2 linked regions of the Homo sapiens genome follow. The protein of the gene in region 2 purifies or fractionates together with the protein of the main gene of each other region. This does not show direct contact. Each region holds a gene or a part of one and is shown on either strand. Other genes may lie near its edges.

Region 1 (3,024 bases), on a different chromosome or scaffold from region 2:
CACCGCGCCCGGCCCATTGCCTACTTTTTAATGGGGTTGTTTTTTCTTGTAAATTTAGTTCCTTATAGATGCTAGATATTAGACCTTTGTCAGATGCATAGTTTGCAAATATTTTGATCAGTGATGTTGAGCTTTTATTCATATGCTTGTTGGAAGCATGTATATATTCTTTTGAGAAGTGTCTGTTCATGCCCATTGCCCACTTTTTAATGGGGTTGTTTTTTTCTTGTAAATTTGTTTAAGTTCCTTATAGATGCTAGATATTAGACCTTTGTCAGATGCATAGTTTGCAAATATTTTCTCCCATTCTGAAGGTTGTCTTCCAGGGTTTTTGTAGTTTTGGGTTTTATATTTAAGTCTTTAATCCACTAGATGGATGTTATAAGAATCCATTTAAGGTGATAGGTGAGAGTGCTACAAAGGGCTTTGCAAATGTCATGGGGAATCAACAAACCCACCCCATTGTGAATTACCTAAGTAGACACTTTTACAAGATAGCATTATTTTTTAATGCAGATGATCCAAGTTTTATTAAAGTTTACATACTTAAGCATAAATAAATTAACAGATTTGTAGCACCAATAATGGTGGCATGATGGTACACCTGGAGGTAACATTATCAAGAGCTTTTGTTGAAACCTTTCATTTTCAATCAGGTGCTGATTTTTTTCCACCCAAGTCTTCAATTATTACTGTTCTAACACTGCAAAAACCATTCAAGCATAAAAAAGCATGCAAGAGGCAGTAAAATAAGCCCAAATAATTGAGAATTGAACAAGAAAACAAAATAATTTACTCTTAAAATGACAAAAGTAAAATTAAGACAACCTCTAAACCAGGGGTCTGGTGAACTTGGATGGGAAAAATTTTAAATCTTTCTTTTCACCAACTTCTAACTGAAATATAACATTTCCTTCAATTACGAATATAGGAAACAGTCCACAGTAGGATCAGAGTACCTGTGACTTTGTCACCAATAGAAATGAGACATTTAGATATATTACAGTTGTTAGATATTTCAAGATATGAATTTGAATTATAGTAATTTTAGAACCACCATGCAGTCTTATTTTGTGTTAACAGAATATGTATGTTACTGGATCATAAAACTTTGAAAATATCAACTTTATTTTAACATGATCAGTTTCCTTTGCGATCCTTTATATTTAGTTTTATGCTTTGAAAACATTACTATGAGAGGGGGTCCACAGGCTTCACTGGATCACTAAAAAGCTCAATGGCACAAAAAAGTTTGAAACAAATAAGTCATTAATATCACAGGAAGAGAGTACTTAATAGTGAAATAGGGTGGGTGCAGTGGCTCATGCCTGCAATCCAAACACTTTGGGAGGCTGAGGCGGGCAGATTACCTGAGGCCAGGAGTTCGAGACCAGCCTGGGCAACATGGCAAAACCCCATCTTTACTAGAAATACAAAAATTAGCCAAGCATGGTGGCACGCGCCTGTAGTACCAGCTACTTGGGAGGCTGAGGCACGAGAATCGCTTGAACCTGGGAGCTGTGGAGGTTGCAGTGAGTCAAGATTGTACCAGTGCACTCCAGCCTGAGTAACAGTGTGAGACTCTGTCTCAAAAAAAAAAAAAGTGAAATATATGAAGCTGACTTCAACAGTAACAGATTTCAGAAAAGGTCTAAAAACTGTGCTCCAGAATTTAATTACCACAAGGAGTTAGAAAATCCACACTACCATCCAGCTTCCTAAACAGAAGACTAAATTTCCCGCTATCCCTGTCTTTACCACTGTACTCACCCCCACCCTAGACTCTAGTGTAGAACAAGTAGTCAAGGAAAGAGAGATTAAAATGGTCACTCATGCAGATGATACCCAAATGCAAACATGACACGCTTAGCAACTGGAAACCTGGTGGGAGGGGCGCAAGAGCACGCTGGCTTCCTAGAGACTGGTTGGCAAACGTAGAATTAAGAGGATGGTGATAAGAAACCAGGGATCCATGGGGCAGCCTTCCCAGTTTGCTCAAACATTCTGTTGCCAGGCTGTGACCAGGACTCAGAGACCAGTCCTAGGTTTACCATCCAGACAACAATGTGGGGGAGCAGAGAGAGCGTTATAGAGAAAAGTTTAAAAATATAAGTAAAATGAAATAGTATTCTTGGGTATTAAAAAAAGAACTCTGAGGCTAAGATTATTGTTGGCCTCTGGACTTGCCCTTTCTGGTCTATCTTCCACATTGCTGTCCGAGTGAATCATTCCAACACTGTATGGCACTCTCTTGCTTAAAATCTTTCAGTGGCTCTCTACTGTGCTCAGGATCAAGTGCAGGTTTAAAGTGCAGGTTTATTACCTGGTCTGCCTAGCCCCATCTTTTGTTATGCTTTTGTATGCTCTATCTCGGCCTACTCAACAATCTGCAGTGCCTCACCCTCTGGCCTCTAGGTCTTTGAGCACAGTGTCCCCACTGTCTGGTACACTGCTCTCTATATTGTGTTTGGCGTTCCCTTTTTCTCCAGGTTTAAGCTTGGCTATCACTTTCTCCCAGAAGTCCTCCTGTGTGCTCCCATAATGCATACAGCTCCTCCTATGTGCTCTGTGCTTGGTCATAGCACTTATCACATTAATAATAGTCTCCTTCAGAGTCTCAGCAATTGGGGTCAGGCACTGGGTCTTACTGTGGTCCTAGCATTTAGCATAGGGCCTGCCACTCAGGATCTCAGGTGGTTGTTGAATGGTTAAATTGTGGATCTATAAAGGCAGAACTGAGCAAAATTACTGCCTTGGTGTGGTGGTGACAGTAACTGGAAATCTCTGTCAATGATTCCCTACATGTGGACTTGATATTTGAGTCCACAAAAATTATAATGGAACTACTGTATATCTTTAAAAAACTTGTAACAAAAATGGCTCATTTATCTAAGACAAATCCAGACAGACTAATAACAAAGGGTAAATTGTTTGCCTTTGGCTGGAAGATAAGCTCAGACAGTGCAGGGTTTTCTGCTGATCAGCAGCTCAGATTGCCTCATGATGCACCACAGGGATTTCTGA
Region 2 (4,039 bases):
GCCAACACTGTGAGACAGATGAAAAACTGTAAGTGCCCAGAGTGTGAGAAGGGGAGAAACTGCCTCCAGAATACTCTTCCCCACCAGGGAATCTGAGAATTCAGGCCATGGGTAAGGCCTTAACCCTACCCAGGCCCAAAGCTGATTTAGGGAGAGGTGAGAAATAAAGTAGAAGCGGCAGTGACAAGTGTCACAAAGGTATTACCAGTCTCCAGCATGGACTGAGGGAAGCCATTTCTTATTTTATCTCACAGGGGACATCAGCAAAGTCAGCCAACTTGAACTTGGGGAGTTCAGCCACATGTCACAGATCGAAAGAAGCTCCTAACTGAATTTCATGATATTAATATTATCTCAAGTGGGAATGAGCCCCCTTGGCCAGAACCCCGGGGGAAAGCAGGAAGTGTGCTGCAGACAAATGCAGAAGGCTGGCACCTGGCCTTGAAGGTGGATGGGGAGGGGAATAGCTTGAAAGCCAAAGTTGCTATCTCCACAGGAGATGTTCAAAGAAGAACTGGTACCAATCCTACTGAAACTATTCAAAAATACAGAGAAAGAGGGAATCCTGCCTAAATTATTCTATGAAGCCAGTATCACCAAATACCAATACCAGGAAAGGACATAACACACACACACACACACACACACACACACACACACACACACAAAAGAAAACTATAGACCAATCTCCCTGATGAATACAGATGTAAAAATCCTCAAGAAAATACTAGCTAACCAAATCCATCAGCACATCAAAAATATATCATGATCAAGTGGGTTTCATCCCATAGGTGCAGGGATGCTATAATATATACAAGCCAATAAATATGATATACCACACAAAGAGAATTAAAAACCAAAACCATAGGATCATTTCAATAGATGCAAAAAAGCAATTAATAAAATCCAACATCCATTTATGATAAAAACCCTCAACAAACTAGGCATAAAATGCATATATAACAAATCCATAGCCAACATCATACTGAATGGAGAAAAATTGAAAGCATTCCCCTGAAAACTGGAATAAGACAAGGATGCCCAATTTTTACCACTTCTATTAAACATAGTACTGGAAGTCCTAGCCAGAGTAATCAGGCAAGGTAAAAAAAATAAAGGGAATCCAAATTGGAAAAGGATAAGCCAAAGTATTGCTGTTTGCCAGTAATATGATCATATACCTACAAAACCCCAAAGCCTCATCCAAAAAGCTCCTCCGACAAACAAATTCAGTAAAGTCTCAGGTTACAAAATCCGTTTACAGAAATTAGTAGCACTGCTATTCACCAACAACAACCATGTTGAGAGTCAAATTAAGAATTCCATTTACAACAGCTGCAAATAAAATCCCTAAGAATATGCTTAACCAAAGAGATGAAAGATCTCTACAAAAAAATACAAAACACTACTAAAAAGAAATGATACATAAACAAATGGAAACACATCCCATGCTTATGGATAGAAAGAATCAATAGTATAAAAATGGCCATATTCCAAATTCATATGGAACCACAAAAGGGCCTCAATAGCCAAGGCAATACTAAGCAAAAAGAAGAAATCTGGAGGTATTTCATTACCAGACTTCAAATTATACTACATGACTATAGTTATACAAACAGCATGGTACTGGTATAAAAAATAGGCACTTAGATCAATGAAACAGAATAGAGAACACAGAAATTAGGGCAAATACTAATCTTTGTTCAACAAAGCAAACAATAATATAAATTAGGGAAAATAACCCTATTCAATAAATGGTGCTGGGACAACTGTTAAGCCACATGTATAAGAATAAAACTGGAAGCCATCTCTCACCTTATACAAAAACCAACACAAGATGGATCAAAGACTTAAGTCTAAGACCTGAAACCATAAAAATTTTAGAAGATAACATTGGAAAACTCTTCTTAACATTGGCCTGTACATTGGCCTCAGCCAAGAATTTGTCTCTAAGACCCCAAAATGCAAATGCACAAAAAGCAAAAATAAATGGGACCTAATTAAACTAAAAAGATTCTGCACAGCAAAAGAAATAATCATGCGAGTAAACAGACAACCTACAGAATGGAAGAAAGTTTTTGCAAACTATGCATCCAGCAAAGGACTGATTATCCAGAATCTACAAGGAACTCAAGTCACCAAGATAAAAACAAATAACCCTGTTGAAAAGTGGGCAAATAACATGAATAGACATTTCTCAAAAGAAGTATACAAACAGCCAACGAACATATGAAAAAATGCTCAACATAACTAATAATCAGGGAAGTACAAATTAAAATCACAATGAGATATCACCTTCTGCAAGAATGGTTATAATTAAAAAGCTGAAAAGACAGTAGAAGTTGGCATGAATGTAGTAAAAAGAGAACACTTTTACACGGCTGGTAGGAATGTAAATGAGTGTAATCTTTATGGAAAACAGTATGGAGATTCCTTAAAGAACTTAAAGTAGATCTACCATTTGATTCAGCAATCCTAATACTGGTATCTACCAAAAAGAAAAGAAGTCATTATATATAAAAAACACATACCCACACATGTTTACAGCAGTATGATTCACAATTGTAGAAATATGAAACCAATCCAAGTGCCCATCAACCAATGCATGAATAATGAAAATGTGGTATATATATATATACATCATGGAATAGTGTATATATAAAAAGGAATGAAATAATATATTTTGCAGGAACTTGGAGCTTGAGGCCATTATTCTAAGTAAAGTAATTCAGGAATGGAAAACCAAACACTGTACATTCTCACTTATAAGTGGGAACTAAGCTACGAGGATGTATAGATATACAGATTATATAATGAACTTTCAAGACTCAGTGTGGGTTAGGTTGGGAGTGAGGTGAGGGATAAAAGCCTACATAGTGAGTACGATGTCCAGTGATCGCCTGACAGCTTCACTTAAATCTCAGAATCACCAGTGTAGAATTGATTCATGTAACCAAAATCCACTTGTACCCCAAAACCTGTTGAAATTAAAATATGAATTCATAAAATAATTATACTGATCTGAGCTGAGGCTCAAAACCTAAAGTAACTTTCAAGTAGTAAATTTGAACACAACAATGATGAGAAAGGCATCATCATTCTCTGCCTTTTATTTTAGCTTTAATACCTGAATATGTGTGAATAAATTGGAACTAATAAGCACAATTCACCCACAACTACTGAACCAGTTACAGAATTGTCATCTCCACACAATCCCATTAAACACATGTGCATACATGCTCATCATAGGCACAGTACCTTTGAAGTGTAGAATATGTCTTCTCTCTTCACACTGCCATCTGCAATCTTGCTTCGGATGGCCAGTCCAACCTGCTCCTCATTATTGTATAAATAAGCAGAATCAATATGGCGGAAGCCAGCTTCTATTGCTAATTTGGTGACCTCTACAGCTCTGTTCCTCGGAACCTGAAGGAGCAACGAAAGGTAGTATTTGGTGATCAATGTGCTTGAGAGGTAGTGAAACAGGAAAAGTTCCCTTGTCCTCACAGGGTGTGCAGTGGGGGTGTGGCTCGCTTCTTCAGGCCCCCGCTGCTCAGACCTCTAGGGGAGCATACAGATGGGGGCAGGTTGTGGGACTATGACCCGTTGACAGTGTCTAGGTGTGGATGTTTACAGCTCCTGAAGCCCCAGTGGGCATGTGTTACAGGGTGCTCTTTTAGTTTTGTTCTTTAAGTTTTGCCATCTACAGGCTTGTGTTAACCAGCTCAATTAGACCCTCTACCTTATGGCAAGGACAGAGGGCTTTCTGTATCCTGAGTTCTTGCTTTGGTTTACCGGAAGGATCGGATCACACCTGGGCTTGGTGAATGAGTGCAGGGTTTCATTGAGTGGAGGTAGCTTGGGGGGAAGTCAGAAGGGGATGGAGTAGGAACGTTTTCCCCTAGAGTCCGGCTGCTCAGCAGCCTGGACTGTCTTCTGACTGCCCCAGCCAAACTCAGCGTCATTCTGCTTCTGCCAGTAGGTGGCCCGCTGGCGTACTGGTGCCTTTCGGTGCATTTCTCTAGATGTCTAGCCACCT

Evidence for each region.
Region 1: the proteins of AKR1C4 (region 2) and TMEM59 purify together in Homo sapiens (co-immunoprecipitation; one large-scale study listed by IntAct). This does not show direct contact.

Annotation. Positions count from the first base shown.
Region 1 is NC_000001.11:54,026,181-54,029,204, forward strand, and holds the end of TMEM59 (transmembrane protein 59 isoform 2 precursor), read right to left. Parts: 3' UTR 501-3,024; downstream 1-500.
Region 2 is NC_000010.11:5,199,568-5,203,606, reverse strand, and holds part of AKR1C4 (aldo-keto reductase family 1 member C4), read right to left. Parts: intron 3,427-4,039; coding exon 3,259-3,426; intron 1-3,258. UniProt on the Homo sapiens protein: Cytosolic aldo-keto reductase that catalyzes the NADH and NADPH-dependent reduction of ketosteroids to hydroxysteroids. Liver specific enzyme that acts as an NAD(P)(H)-dependent 3-, 17- and 20-ketosteroid reductase on the steroid nucleus and side chain.